Regions from separate parts of the Homo sapiens genome. Here region 2 is linked to region 1. The links come from fine-mapping of genetic effects on gene expression. Tissue or cell type: whole blood. Region 1 holds a variant in brackets; the other region holds the start of a gene. All regions are shown on one strand. Distances are from middle to middle.

The links. PIP is the estimated chance that this variant, and not a neighbour inherited with it, causes the effect.
Region 2: it holds the start of CUZD1, and the variant in region 1 is fine-mapped to the expression of CUZD1 in whole blood (TOPMed, PIP above 0.99).

What each region holds. Positions count from the first base shown.
Region 1 is chr10:123,005,087-123,013,193 of GRCh38, reverse strand. IKZF5 (IKAROS family zinc finger 5) reads left to right here and starts at 4,399. Exons shown (of 5, transcript NM_001372123.1): 1 at 4,399-4,500; 2 at 6,018-6,168. ACADSB (acyl-CoA dehydrogenase short/branched chain) reads right to left here and starts at 4,188. Exons shown (of 11, transcript NM_001609.4): 1 at 4,123-4,188. The coding sequence starts at 4,164. RefSeq lists enhancers at 4,283-4,612, 4,893-5,122. The variant C/T (reference allele first, on the strand shown) is at 3,493.
Region 2 is chr10:122,841,658-122,849,764 of GRCh38, reverse strand. CUZD1 (CUB and zona pellucida like domains 1) reads left to right here and starts at 3,908. Exons shown (of 9, transcript NM_022034.6): 1 at 3,908-4,003. The coding sequence starts at 3,922. It overlaps FAM24B (family with sequence similarity 24 member B), which reads left to right. Exons shown (of 4, transcript NM_152644.3): 4 at 326-687. The coding sequence ends at 518. It overlaps FAM24B-CUZD1 (FAM24B-CUZD1 readthrough), which reads left to right. Exons shown (of 11, transcript NR_037915.1): 3 at 3,545-4,003. RefSeq lists enhancers at 2,171-3,052, 3,119-3,618, 3,619-4,120.

The DNA.
Region 1 (8,107 bases):
CTGTATCAAGCTCAGGGTTTGTGGATGCACCAATCGGTACTCTGTATCTAGCTAATCTGGTGGGGACTTGAAGAATCTTTATGTCTAGCTAAGTGATTGTAAATACACCAATCAGCACTCTGTATCAAGCTCAAGGTTTGTAAATGCACCAATCCGCACTCTGTGTCTAGTTCAGGGTTTGTAAATACACCAATCAGCACTCTGTATCTAGCTAATCTAGTGGGGAGGTGGAGAACTTTTGTGTCTAGCTCAGGGATTGTAAATGCACCAATCAGCACCCTGTCAAAACAGACCAATCCAATCAGCTGTCTGTAAAACAGACCAATCAGGCTGCCGAGCCAGCAGTGGCAATCCAATCGGGTCCCCTTCCACACTGTGGAAGCTTTGTTCTTTAGCTCTTTGCAATAAATCTTGCCGCTGCTCAATCTTTGAGTCCACACTGCCTTTATGAGCTGTAACACTCACCGCGAAGGTCTGCAGCTTCACTCCTGAAGCCAGCGAGGCCACAAGCCCACCGGGAGGAGCGAACAACTCCAGATGTGCCGCCTTAAGAGCTGTAACACTCACCGTGAAGGTCTGCAGCTTCACTCCTGAGCCGGTGACACCACAAACCCACCAGAAGGAAGAAACTCCGAACACATCCGAACATCAGAAGGAACAAACTCCAGACACACCGCCTTTAAGAACTGTAGCACTCACCGCGAGGGTCCGTGGCTTCATTCTTGAAGTCAGTGAGACCAAGAACCCACCAATTCTGGACACACTATGACCCAAACACTTCCCATTAGGCCCCACCACTCAAAACCTCCGCACTGGGGATCAAGCTTCCAACACATGAATTTTGGGGGACACATTCAAACCATTTGTGTTCTCTCTACCTGGATGCCAAATATATGTCCAGAAAAAATACTTCTGGTTTTGTTGAAGAGCAAAAAGTTAAACAACAAGAATTATATGTATTTTGGCAGCTGCTGTCTGGCAGATGTCCAGAGAATTAACTGAACAAGAATTCACGTCAAGGATATTTGTCAAGAATCACCTCTTGGCTGGGTGCAATGGCTCATGCCTGTAATCCCAGCATTTTGGAGGGTGAGGTGGGAGGATCGCTTGAGGCCAGGAGTTCCAGACCAGCCTGGCCAACACAGTGAGACCTCATCTCTACAAAACACTTTAAAAATTAGCCAGGTGCAGTGACACATGCCTGTGGTCCTAGCTCCCGGGGAGCTGAGGTCAGAGAATCACTTGAGCCAGGAGTTCAAGGTTACGGTGAGCTATGATCACGCCACTACACTCCAGCCTGGGCAAGAGAGTGAAAACTTGTCTAAAAAAAAAAAAAATCATCTCTTAAAAGACATCAAGCGGCCTGGTGTGGTGGCTCACGCCTGTAATCCCAGCATTTTGGGAGGCCATGGCGGGTGGATCATGAAGTTAGGAGTTTGAGACCATTTCCATCTTGCTGACCAAGATGGTGAAACCCCATCTGTACTAAAACTACAAAAATTAGCCAGGCAAGGTGGCAGGCGCCTGTAATCCCAGTTACTCGGGAGGCTGAGGCAGGAGAATCGCTCGAATCCGGGTGGCATAGGTTACAGTGAACTGAGATCGCACCACAGCACTCCAACCTGGGCGACAGAGTAAGACTCCGTCTCAAAAAAAAAAAAAAAAAGATATCAAGCTACATTAAAATGCTTTGGAACCACAGGTTAACTACAAGGTCCAATTCTCCACTAATTGGGTTGCTTAGACCAAATGGGCAGGACAGTTCTAATCCATCTGCAGGACTAGGAGAGACCTTCTGAGAAGGCAGGGGTAGGCTGAAGGTCAGCATTGCAATCTGATTGTTATGTGACTTGGGAACACTGGTTATTGCCTCCGAGTTCCTCATTTGCAAGATGAAGCCACTAATATACCTACTTCAGAGGTTTACAGGAAGAGTAAATAGGGTAGTGGGTGTAAAATGCTGTCCCTGGTCTACAATAAGTGAGTAAATGCTAGCTTTCCATTTGCCTCTGGATAGAAACCAAAATTAGCCCTACCTTGCATTTCTCCCCACTCCATGCCACTTGTGTCCACAGCCATCTACCTACACTGTGGCATGAGGAAACTCCAAAGCTCTTGACCTTCAATGGCTCCTAACAATCCAAAAGGATCAACCCCCAATTCCCTAAAGTGGCCTCAGTCCCCTTTTGTTGCAGTTTTCTGACCACTCCTTTCCCCTCCTAAACTCTAACCCAGCTTCCAAAGAGCCTATCACTTCCCCAATGGTCCTAGTCATTTCTATCTTCTGAATCTGCACGCAGACTGTAGCCCCTTAGGATTTGTTCCACACCTACATGACATGGGGTTAGTTGCACATAGTTCTAACCTTTCCTCTAAAAGATAAACTTCTTGGAGGTAGAGTATTTTATTCATTATTACATCTGGCATAGCACACAATGCTTCGTGCATGGCAGTAAGAGCTGATATTTACCGAGAGCTGACTACATTCCGAGCACTATTCTAAGTGCCTTACATGAACATATGAGCTCATTTAATTTTCACAACAATTTTGGAATACGCACAATTATTCTCTCCATTTACAGACCAGGAAACTGAGACCCAAAGCATAACCTGTCCAAGGTTATACCACTAGGAAGTGAGAGGGCCTGGGTTCAGATCCAAGCAGCCTAGCTACAGAACCTACGTTCTTAACCACTATGCTACAGTCGATGTTCAATCAATTTAGCTAATTTATGTAAAAGAGCTTCAAAAACTATAAAGGACTATAAGCCACAATAAACCAAAAGTTCAAACAAAATAGGTTTTTGATATCTCTAAGGACGGGGAGACAGTAGTATATGAAGGTTAAGTTTAGAATCAGACCAGAGTTCGAATACCACCAGCTCTATCCCTTTCTATCTGTGGGCAAGCTATTATTCTTTTTCAGCATCTGCAAGATTAAACTACTTGTTAAGATGGTTGTGAGAATTGAGATGACTCAGGTAGAACGAGAACGTGCCTACCACAGAGTATGCGGTCAATAAATTTTGGCTCTAAAACAGAGTCAAATTGTAAAACCAAAGAAATTTTCTTTGCTAAGTTATTAACCAACAATTATAAACAGTATTAAACAATAATCACTTACTGTTTTTTATTGCACTTCAGGCCTGTAAAACAGTCAAATAACATTAATTATCTCTAATAAGAAAAAGGGTCAGAGTTCTGCCTCTGGGCATAAGACTGAAGCAGCAGTTGGAAAGCCTAACTCATTAAAGCAAATGCAAAGGAAACATTAAAAGCACACGTAAGCAGTGGGAAAATTCCCAGTGAAGTGTACTGACAAATACAAGTGTATCCAAATGTGTATGTTCTGAAAAGCATGCTATATAATAGGTCCAAGGGGTGAAGAGCATAGGATGTTAACACAGGGGCTGTTAACAGTTTGTGTGGGTGCACAGATAAGAATTAAGCACAACAAGAGGCTGGTTTCAGCTTAAGTTCATGGAAGAGGGA[C/T]CGGCACCGGCTCCGGCTCCCCTGGGCGGCGGTGAGTCTATCCACGGAAGATACCCAGGCTCCAGACATGAGATAAGGGGCAGAGGGAACTCTGTCCCTGGCCGGGAAGCCCGAACAACTCCGAAGTCCCTTACTACCTTTGAGCGGGGCCGCGGAAGGAAGGACAGGGAGACACCTGCTCAGAATGAGACTGGGCCTATATTTTAACTATCTTTTTTGGGGGAGGGGGTGTGAAATGTAATCACTCGGGAAAGGTGCGTTAGGGCATCAGGGAGGTGACATCTGTGCAAAATGCATCCAGAGATCCAGAGATCCAGACTCGGTGGCTCTCAGGACGCAACGGCCTGCAAAGGACATCTTGCGGACGCGACCCTCCGACTCCACTCAAGGTACTTGCTCCGCCAAAGCAGCTTCTAGACAGCCCCGACCCCCTTGCCACCAGCTGCCTCCACCAGAGGCCTGAAGGGGGTCGGGGTCATAGACTGCCCGCGGGTAAAGAGTCTGGGGACCCAGGACGTGGAGCGGGGCTCAGGCCGGCGCCCCGAGGCCCGTTAGAAGGCTCTGCCAGCTGCGATTCCAGGGGCCAAGGTCGCCCTGGGCCCCCAGGACGCCAGCCTCGAACGCACTCACCAGCCTGCTGCCGCGCAGCAACCGCACTGCCAGGCCCTCCATCCTCGCCGCAGGCCTCTCCGCTCTGCGCCTCTGGGTCTCTAGCCAGCCCCTGGGAGTTACCCGAGCAAGGCCCCGCCCACTCAGTACCCGCCCCGCACACACCCCCCCTTAATCCCTGCCCCCTGCTGCCTACGGAACCCCAAGAGAGACAAACAGGCCCCTCCTCGCTTTCGCCCTCCATCCTGCTCACGCGAGACTTGAGCAAGGCAGGGGGGCGGGAAGGGAGTCGGAGACACAACAAAGATGGCGGCGGCGACTGTGACGGTGACGAAGACGGCGGCGGCGGCGACGGCATTTAACAAGGCGGTGTGGTTTACTCCATGCAGTTGTCAGGAGGTAAGTAGCAGGCTGCCGGCTCGGACGGCGGCGACGCGGCAGGACAGGGCGGATAAGAAGGAGCGGCCGGAGACTGGAGCTGGGTTCGTGGCGGGCCGGCTGATCCGGACGGAGACTCAGTTCAGTGGAGGGTCGGGCGTGGTCGGTAGGCGGGCAGGTGATGGCCCGGGACCTCTTTAGCCGGAGGGCAGTGGACTGCGGCGCCTATGGCCGCGAGAACCCCGAGGGAGCGGGGTCTCCTGCTGTCATTGCCTTCGAGCAGGAGCTCGGAGGCTCCGGGGCGGGGACTGTTGCTTGGCTCTGACAGGTGGTTCTGCGGGAGGCGTCCCGAGGTTTGCGTCTTCACGGGGTCCCAGGGGCTGGGAGTCAGCCGGGCGCGGGTCTCCTAGGTGTTTCGAATCCTGGCGAGGATGTCGCTCCGAATCTTGGTGAGGCTGCTGCCCCGACGCCGGTCCCAGGCTGATTGTTGGGAGAAGGACGTTTAAAGCCTTCGTATTTTATCTAATGATCCTGCCCGGATCCGTCTCTACTGCATGGGCACCCTTATTTTAGGAACATGTGAGATTTGAGAAAGACATTGTAGCAAATAACTATTCAGGTTCATTCGGGGTTTAGATCTTTGGATAAACTGTGTGGAGCGCGAGTAGCCAAGCCTAGCATGCTCGATGACTGGATCTGAAGCTAAACAAGTTCTAGCAAACACTAACCACGTGGCCTGCTTAGAGTCCCCTTGATGTGCTGGTCAGAACCCGAAAGACGTGTGACAAGCGGAAGAAGACATAAAGGCGTCTTAAATTGTGTGATCTGAGGAAATTCAGTTTTGAAAGAACAGAATGTATTTAAAACAACTTTTTTTTAAACGTAGGAACTAACAATTTTAAAAATTCAATTTAATTTTGATTTATGTCGTGTTGTCACAACAGCTAAAGGTTATTATTATTGATGAGAGTTCGTTACAGTGAATTGAAATGTCTGGTGTTATTTTCCCCTAGCGGTCCAGGATGTTTCCCAGAAAACCGTAGCTGTTTTGTGTTATGATAGGATAAGAAGGATGGGATTCAGATGTGCCCTTATCGGGTGTGCATGTTTTTTTTGTTTTTGTATTTAAAGCCCTTTCCCATTTCCCTACTTAGGACTATGCGTTGTTTTTATGCAACTACAGCTGTTCAGCAGTACTAAGCTTGACCGTTTTGGAAGTGTGCTGTGACTAAATGAAGTTAATCTTAATTTCTTTAAACTGAAGTTTAACTTAAATTTAGACATTAAAAATCTTGCCAAAAACTAATCCACCAGTGAGAAAACGGTAGTCACACCAGTTATTCTTTGGTGATCCTATGGAGCTTTTGCTGAAGTGAAGCTACTGCTTTGTTCTTTGATTAATCTGTCAGTTCGTTTTCTTTTCAGCTAATGTAATGATAAGATTGGCATAAGTTACTAGCTCATTCAACCTGTAGATGCTAATTAAGTTTTTATCTTAAAGGTTTTGATTTGTGGTGTGCTGTTTGTTTTTTATGCAGACCTCTGTATGGCTTTTCAATTTTAGTTGAAATTCTCTCTCCATGGCCTTTTGGAGTCCCTTGCTGTATCTCCGAAGTAAATTTCAATTACTCTACATTTCATCAATGTTGGAGTGGCAAGAAAAAGGAGGAACAGATTTGGGGTGAAAAGGTTAGATTGTATAATTTCTCTTCTGGATTTCTTTCAACATGGTTTTACTTATGTTTTATTTTTATGTTTTGATTTCTGATTTCTCAGAGCCTCATAATTTCTTTTTTTGCCTTCAAGAGTTTTTGACAGTTCTGAAATCAGGAATTGTGTTCCAATTATTTTGGAAGGCCCATGTTACTCCATAGAAACCAATCCTTATTTGTCAACGTTGTCTGTTTATATGTGTTCTATAGCAGAGTAAATCTCAGTGACCATAATTATTAGGCTATGGAGGGTAAACACATCTATTGAACTGTAATCACTTTATGTGTATAGGCCTGCCTTACCCATAAATTATTATGTAAGTAAATTAGTTGCTAATATTGTATTCTTCCTTATGGTTACCTATGAGAAGTAAGACTTCTCATGAATGCTAGGTGAACGAAACATATCCTGCTGTTCCCTAATCATGTTCTCAAAATTCTCCCACAGTTTATAAAAAAGATAGAAGGAAGAAGGAAGATAGGTTAGAGAGCTTCTTCTCTGGTTGTTTCATAGTTGTGAATGCCTTCTAATTTGCATTTCAGTGCCTGTGTTTTAAATTATTAGCTACTGGTTAAGAGGCTGGGGGGGGTGCACATATATACACACATGTAATTGTGTGTGTGTGCTTGTATATATGCTTGCATTGATCAACAGCTTCCCATTTATGAGACTGAAGAAGAAAGATCAGACGACTTCATACAAAATAAATCCTTTATCAGAAACCAAGGAAGATCGGAAATTAGCCTAAATTACCTACTTGAGGTAGAGGTTTTCCTGTTCTTTGGGATATCAAAGCTTAATTCTCTTATACCTCTTTTCCCCCTACCGGCTTGCATAGCCTCTGGTTGTTTTCTGAAAGCATTGATTTTGAGCCTTGAATAATAAATTGGGGGACGCTACTGGCATGACAATACTTTAGGTATACCCTAGCCAGTTTCTATATAGATATCCACCTACACCCCATGGAATTCCATACTATATTCAACTTAACTTTAATCAGAATAATCACAGGAAGGATTTGGGAATTTTGCTATATCATAAGGAACAATCATCATAAAGTATGGGGATATTGTTCTCTTTGGTTGATATGATTAGATATCTTAGTTCAGGTTGCTGTAACGAATTACCATAGACTGAGTGGTTTAAACAAACATTTATTTCTCACAGTTCTGGAGGCTGGGAAATCTTAATATGAAGGTGCCAGCAGATCAGGTATCTGGGGAGGGCTTGCTTTCTGATTGTATCCTCTCATGGCAAAGAGCAGAGAGGAAGCAAGATCTCTGGATCTCTTCACAAGGCACTAATCCCATTTAGAGGACTTCACCTTTACAACCCAATTATTTCTCAAAGGCCCCACTCCAGATGCCATCAAATTGGGGGTTAGAATTTCAACATATCAGCTTTTGGGGACATAAACATTCAGTCCATGACGATACCAGCAGAAAGAGTACATCTGAGTTGTAATAACACCACCCACATCTGTAATAATACTGGAGAATACTTAAGTATATTTCTTGTTCAGATGACATGATATCATACATTGAAATTTTGTGTTAAGTAAGTAATTTTTTGGCTAACAAACACCAAGGTATTGAGTTCATGTCCAGTATAGGAAAGATACCACTAAAAAAATTATAGCTTGTGGATTTTCTAAAGTATATTTTGTTATGTTTGCAAAGGTTTTAAAATTTATCAATGCCTTAGAGGCATCTCTGGGTATCAGTTAATTTGTGGAGTTCCTAGATTAAACTTTGAGACTTGAGACTGATGATAATTACATCAAAGACAGGAAAATGGCTCAGATAGAAAACCTTTATTTTCTTTCTATAAGAGGAAGTCTTTTGTAGTTCCAGAAATTTTTTTTTTCTTTTAAAAATTAGAGATGAGGTCTCGCTCTGTTGCCTGGACTGGTCTT
Region 2 (8,107 bases), 160 kb after region 1:
GCACATCCCGGAGCCTGGGACACAGCCAAATGCAGCACCTTCCCATCATTCCTGCATCTCGGGGGCCTGCAGTGACCAGTTGGGTGACCTTGCTTGCAAAATCACTCACTCTTGCTTTTGTAACCTCAGTTTACATTTATAGCAATCATAGAAGAGGAAAGGATTCGAGAGGAACTTGGGATGGGGGAGAGAGCTTTAATGTAGGGCTGGTGTTCATGTTTGACTGGCTTCAGCACTAAACTCCCCAGATACCCCCCAACAGTTCTAACAAAAGGGCTGAGAAGAAAAATTCTAAGCCTGTGCTTTGTGTGTGTCTTTTCTCAAGAGCTGCAAAGGAACCTGAAGCTGTGGCTGTAAAAAATCACAACCCAGACAAGGTGTGGTGGGCCAAGAACAGCCAGGCCAAAACCATTGCCACGGAGTCTTGTCCTGCCCTGCAGTGCTGTGAAGGATATAGAATGTGTGCCAGTTTTGATTCCCTGCCACCTTGCTGTTGCGACATAAATGAGGGCCTCTGAGTTAGGAAAGGTGGGCACAAAAATCTTCATGAGCAATACTTCTTAGTAGATTGTTTTGTTATTCAAATCAAGTTCTAGTGTTTTTATGTGAGATTATATAATTTACAGTGTTGTTTTATATACTTTTGAATAAATGTACACTATTAAAAATAATCCTCTTTGCTGCCAATATTTTTTGATTGTTGATTATAAACATCCTTTGTTTAAATATATTTATTACTCACTTTGGAATGTGGGGGGGGATTAGCTTGTAGCATTGCAATAGAAGAAAGAGAATTGGAATAAAAGTGTCCAGCACATCTCCCACCCGAGAAGGAAAATGCACACTGTTCTTAGGACACTTCCAATTTCAGCCCAGCTGATCTTGTCCAGCTGGAGTCGCTCGTTTAGCTCTCGTGAGGGCTTGGATGGTTGACATCCACCGCAGAAAATGGTGTCATGTCCTGATACCTGTCCTGTTGTCCTGTCCATTTATCCAAGACAGTGAGAGGAGCCAGGCAGGACCTCCCTGTGTTAAAGTTGTCTGACCTGTGTAAGATAGGCCTGAGCTCAGTGACCTCAAAAGGACCTTTTGAAAACCAGTTTCTTCCTACTGCAATCCCCAAATCTCCAGAGCATGTGGCTCCTGCGTGGATTACGGTAACAGTGATGTGTGTTGATCCAGCCATCAACATCTTCAACTGTAACACGAACCACCAGCCAAAGGCCAAAGCCCAGACTCCCTGACCACAACAGCAGGTGGCAGGAAGCACTCCTCCCCACTTTACTCCCAGCTGCCTTCTGTTCCAGCTCCTGCCCCTGAGCCTCCTGGAACCCCTTTCTAAGCATGATTCCCTATCTGTAACCGCCATGTCCACTCCTCTCATGAACTAAACCCTTGCTTGTGACCATCACATGTATACTGAATGTAAAGAATTATTAGCTAGTAACAGGTGGTAATCTACTAAAAGGGGGTAAAAAGGAAAACAGAAGTCGCAAATGAAGGAAACAGCTGTGACAGCTAGGCACAGAAACAGGCCAGATGTGGGTGGAGGAGCTGCCTGTAGACGCCGAGCACCTCCTGGAGGCTGAGCCTCCAGCCCCAGCATGCTTGGGAAGAGGCCAAGTCAGGGCAGCCTCCAGCTGGAGGTCACCTGTCCCCCTTAAGTTTCCGGGCACTGTCTCTGTCCCCTGCCTTTGATTTTCTCTTGTCACCAGCCAGCTCTGACAGATGGAGCACATACAAATCCCCTCTTACCCCACCCAGTGGGTGGCCCAGTGCCTGGATCCAGGACGCCTGTGCCAGGGCCTCCCCATGTGGGTGACTATACCTGGTGCAGGTATTGCGGGGGCCGTGAGGGAGGTGGGACAAAGGTCTTCAGGACACCCCCATTAGCAGGAGGACAGAGCACCGCACATGGGCTTTAGAGCCCTATGGAGCCGGTTCCCATCCCAATTCGGCCTTCACCAGGGGAAGTCCCTTGACTCATCTGAGCCTCTGTGTCCTTGATGTGAAGTGCGGACTTGCACAGGTGACAGAGAAGAAGCAATGAGATGATGCAGGGTGACCCCACAGCACCCCGTGGTCCCCAGGAAGTTGCCAGAGGCCTGAAGGGGGCTTCTCTCCTGACTGGATCTGGAAGCCTGGGTCCTTTGCCAGGGCCACCTAACAGAGTGTGGCCATGAAACTCTCGCACTCAGTGGAGATGGATTAGGGATGTTGGAGATCCCAGCCATGGGTGACAAAGAGGGGTTCAGAGGGAAAGCCCAGGGTGGGAGTGGGTATCCATGGACACAGCTGCAAGCGCTTAGTAACCAGAAGGGTCCCCCATCTCAAACACCTGTGGCCTGCTAACTCACCCCAGGACACCCAGTCCTGCCTCATCCACAGCCAGCCCGGGCAGATAGGAATGGAGCAGAGCAAGGCAGGGGCCTTGGGGTATGTCCAAGCTCCTCCTGAGCATCCCAGGTGCTGCCTTTCCCCTGCAAGGGTCCAACGAGGAATGGATCCCCTGGGTCACAACGTAGGACTGTGCTCTCCCTAGGGAGGCCTCCTGGGCTGCAGCACAGTCAGAACAACACAGAGGGGCTGACGGTAGCCAGAGGGTTTCACCCTAGGAGACTTAGCCTACACGAGCGTCAGACCTCCCCAGAGCTGCACAAAGGTTCTTCAGAAAGTAGCCAGTCCTGGCATTGTCCACTCAATATGTTCCACCTGAACTTAGAGTGAAAACCAGACTCATTTGCCCTATGGGTCCTTCCCCATCTGACCTTCACCTGCTCCTCTCCATCCTCCCCTCCCAGCTCACTCCTCCCACTCATGACCAGCCAGGCTGTTCTTTATTCCCTACTATTGTAGGTGTGCCCACCTGGTCTCTGCCTCGGGGCCTGTGCACTTGCCCTCTCTTTTGCCTAAGATGCAGCCCCCAAGCTCAGATCACCCATGAATGCCTCCCTCTTGTCTTTCTGCCTTTGTTCAGATTTCATCTCTCAAGATGCCCTCCTTCTCACTGTCATATTTCCTCCCCACCCCAAGGCAACCACCATCTATGCAGTCATCCTGTTTATTGTATCCTTAGCTCCTCTCACCAGTTGAATTCTTCATTTATTTTTGTTGTTTAACTCTCCACTTAGAATACAAGTTTCATGAGGGCAGGACTGTGTCTCTCACATTCAATTCTATATTGCTTAGGCCCTAGATCAATAAGTAATGTTTACTGACTGAATGAATGAAAAGAGGGCAGCCCCCACCCACCACCACTTGCTCCTCCCAATCTCAATGTGGACACTAGGATTTCTTTCTCTCAACTGCAAAACACCGTGCCCGAGAGACTAATTCACCTGCTTCAGTCTCTCCAGACATAACTGGTTAGAAATCGCTGTGGGGGAATCTGGATCTGCACTCTTTTTCTCTTCATCCTCTACCCTCTTCCCCTCCCCCACAGGGTCAGCCACCTGGCAGGGCATCTGAATGTCCCAGCTGGACCCAGATTTTGCCCAGGTGCTGCACCCCCTGCCTTGCCCCACAGGCCTTTGTTCTCCCACAGGCTCCCTTCTCAAAGCAGAGCCCTGAAGACTTCAATGATGTCAATGAGGCCACCTGTTTGTGATGTGCAGGCACAGAAGAAAGGCACAGCTCCCCATCAGTTTCATGGAAAATAACTCAGTGCCTGCTGGGAACCAGCTGCTGGAGATCCCTACAGAGAGCTTCCACTGGGGGCAACCCTTCCAGGAAGGAGTTGGGGAGAGAGAACCCTCACTGTGGGGAATGCTGATAAACCAGTCACACAGCTGCTCTATTCTCACACAAATCTACCCCTTGCGTGGCTGGAACTGACGTTTCCCTGGAGGTGTCCAGAAAGCTGATGTAACACAGAGCCTATAAAAGCTGTCGGTCCTTAAGGCTGCCCAGCGCCTTGCCAAAATGGAGCTTGTAAGAAGGCTCATGCCATTGACCCTCTTAATTCTCTCCTGTTTGGCGGAGCTGACAATGGCGGAGGCTGAAGGTAAGAAAATTGAACCAGATTTATTCACCAAAACAGAGAAGTTCTTCTCTTAAGAGGCCTCTTTCAAAATTTTTCAAAGTGTTTATATCTGTTGGCCCCAGTTCAGAGAAAAATGTACTCTAATGCTCTTGGAGGGGATTTTAAATTAGTTCTAATTTTATTTGGCTCATCTGACAATGTCCATAAAAATATCAAAAGTGTATAGAATTTTACTGAGTAATTTACTGCTAAGAGTTTATGTTTTGGAAATAAGCATAAAAGTGTCCAAAGATATATGTATAAATATGTGCACTTACATAATTGTAAACTACAACATGAATTTTCATTATTTCTTACGGTAAATCCATAAAATGGAACACTCTTTTTTGCAACTTAAAAAAAAATGATGGCTGGGGGCGGTGGCTCACGCCTGTAATCCCAGCACTTTGGGAGGCCAAGGTGGGTGGATCACGAGGTCAGGAGTTCGAGACCAGCCTGGCCAACATGGTGAAACCCCATCTCTACTAAAAATACAAAAATTAGCCAGGTGTGGTGATGCGTGCCTGTAGTCCCAGCTACTCGGGAGGCTGAGGCAGGAGAATCGCTTGAACCCGAGAGGTGGAGGTTGCAGTTAGCTGCGATCATGCCACTGCACTCCAGCCTGGGTGACAGAGCAAGACTCCGTCTCATAAAAAAAAAAAAAAAAGACTCTGATCTATAATGTGTCCATAGACCACATTAAGAGAAAAAAGAGATCTGAAGTTTGTGTACAATATGATGGTTCTTATGTTTGAAATATATACATTCAAGCATTTTAAATGTCTAGAAATAGAAGAGGAAAGGAAAAGGAGTGGAAGAATTTACACCAAGGTTTTAGTGATGATTGTTTCTGGATGGATGGGGTTATGGGAGTATATGGGAGAATAAATAAAAATAAAGCTTTGTTCCTATGTAGGTGGGGTTTTTGACCATTAGTCAAAATCTTGGTGGGATTTTGAATTAGTACTAATTTTATTTGGGCCCATCTGACAACATACATAAAAATATAAGAATTTACCAAATAATTTTTAAAAATTTTATAGAAAAAAATTTTCACTATGTTGCCCAGGCTGGTCTCGAACTCCTGAGCTCAAGTGATCCACCCGCTTTGGCCTCCCAAAGTGCTGGGATTACAGGTGTGAGTCACCACGCCCAGCCCCTTACCGGGTAATTTCACTGCTAACAGCTTATCTTTAGGATCCAGTTATTTTTCCTCTTCCCCTTTTCTCTTTCTTCTCTTCTTTCTCCTTTTTAATAACAGCTTTATTAAGATATGATTAACATACCATAAAATCCACCATTTTAAAGTATACAATTTAGTGTTTTTTAGTATATACACAGAATTGTGCAACAATCACCACTATCTAATTCCAGAACATATTCTTCACCCCCAAAAGAAACTGTCTCAGGCTCAGCATGATGGCTCAAGCCTACAATCCCAGCACTTTGGGGGGCTGACATGGGAGCATTGCTTGAGGCTGAGAGTTTGAGACCACCCTGAACGACGTAGTGAGACCTCGACTCTACAAAATTAAAAAAAAAATTTTTTTAGCCAGGCATGGTGGTACATGACTGTAGTCCCAGCTACTCTGGCGGCTGAGGTGGGAGGATCACTTGAGCCCAGTAGTTTGAGGCTGCAGTAAGCTATGATTGTGCCATCTCAATCCAGTATAGGTAACAGAGTGAGACTCTGTCTGTCCCTCTCTCTATATATATATATATTTATATATAGTCTCTCTATATATATAGTCTCTCTATAGTCTATATATAGTCTTTATATAGTCTATATATATAGTCTCTATATATAGACCAATGTTTTATATATATATAAATATATCTAACAATATATATAACTGTATATTATATATAGACTAATGTGATGAATATTAGTGTACAAGTTTCTGTGTGGACATATATATATATATATATATATGTATGTATATATATGTATGAAGAAAGTCTGTATTCACTACCATTCACTCTCCATTTCTCCTGATGTCTCCAGCACAAGGAAACCACTACTCTACTTTCTGTCTCTATAAATTTACTTATTCTGGATATTTCACATAAATGAAATCATGTAATATGTGGTATTTCACTTAGCATAATATTTTCAAGGTTCGTATGTATTGTAGCATGTATCAGTACAATCAGCCCTCAGTACCTGTGGGTTCAGCATTCATGGATTCAACCAACCATGAATTGAAAACATTTGAAAAAATAAGGGTTGGTTACAGAACATGTACAAACTTTTTTCCTTGCTGTTATTTCCTAAATAATATAGTAAACAACTATTTACACATCATTTACACTGTATTATAAATAATCTAGAGATGTTTTGAAGTGTACAGGATGTGTGTAGGTCACATGCAAACACTGTCATTTTACATAAGGGACTCCAACATCCATGGATTTTGGTATCCACAGGGGGTCCTGGAACCAATCATTCGTGGACACCAAGGGATGACTGTACCTCATTTCTTTTTATTGCTGAATAATATTCCAATGTATGGATAGACCATGTTTTATTTATTCATCAATTGATGAACATTTGGCTTATTATGACTAATGTTGCGATGAATATAGTATACAAGTTTTTATGTGGACATTTGTTTTTATTTCTTTTGGGGATATGCCTAGCAATAGAATTGCTGGGTTATGATAACTGTATGTTTACTCTTTTGAGGAACTGCCAGACTGTTTTCCATGGCAGCTGTACCACTTTACAATCCCATAAGCAGTGTATAAGCATTCCAGTTTCTCCATGTCCTTGTCAACACTTGCTGTTTTCTGTGTTTGACTCTAGCCATCCTAATGCATGTGAAGTGATATCTCGTTGTGGTTTTCATTTGTATTTCCCTGATGACTAATGATGCTGAATATATCTTTACATGCATATTGGCCATTTATAGATCTTCTTTGGAAAAATGTCTATTCTGGTTCTTTGTCCATTTTAAATTGGATTATTTGCCTTTTAGTTATTGAATTGTAAGAATTCTTTATACATTCTAGAAATCAAGTGTCTTTTAAAAACCATCCTTTTTTTCCCAGGTTGATCTATAAATTCAGTGCAATTCCAATACAAATCCCAGTAAGAATGTTAAATAGATACAGACATGCTGACTCTAAAATTTATTGAAAAAGCAAAGGAACTGGAATAGCCAAAAAAATTTTGCAAAAGAACAGTAAAGTTGGAACAGTCATGTTACCTACAGTAATAACATAAACTACAGTAATCAAGCAGGTGTGGTTTGCCAAAAGGATAGACAGAGAAAATTGAAATAGAATAGAGTTCAGAAATAGATCCACACAAATATGGTCCTTTGATTTTTGACAAAGGTGCAAAGGCAATTTAATGGAGAAAGGACAGCCTTTTCATCAAATGGTCTTGGAACAATTGGACACCCATATGCAAAAAATGAACTCAACCTAAGCCTCATTTCTTACACATAAATTAGTTCAAAATGGATCATAGATCTAAATGTAAAATGTAAAACTATAGTATTTTTAAAAAGAAAACATGGGAGAAATCTTTGTAACCTGGGGTTGAGCAAAGAGTTCTTAGACAAGACACCAAAAGCACAACCCATAAAAGAAACTATTACTAAATTGGACTTTATAAAAGATTTAAAACTTTTGTTTTGGGAAAGACACTGTTAAGAGGATGAAAAGACAAGATACAGATTGGGAGAAAATATTTTCAAATTGCAGATGCAACAAAGGACTTGTATTCAGCATATATAAAAAACTCTCAAAACCCAATCATGAAAACAAAAAGCCAAGTTAAAAAAAAAAGGGCAAAAGACTGAGAGATACTTACCAAAAAGGATATATAGAAGGCAAATAAGAACATGAAATGATGTTCAATGTCATTAGCCATTAGGGAAATGTAAGTTAAAACCATGATGGGATGCTGCTACACATCTGTTAGAATGGCTATACAAAGCAATACAAAAACCTGACAATAGTGTGTGTTGACAAGAATGTGGTGCAACTGGAACTCTCATACATCATTGGTTGGATTGTGAAATAGAACAGCTACTCTGGCAAATGGTTTGGCAGTTTCTTATGCAGTTAAATATACAC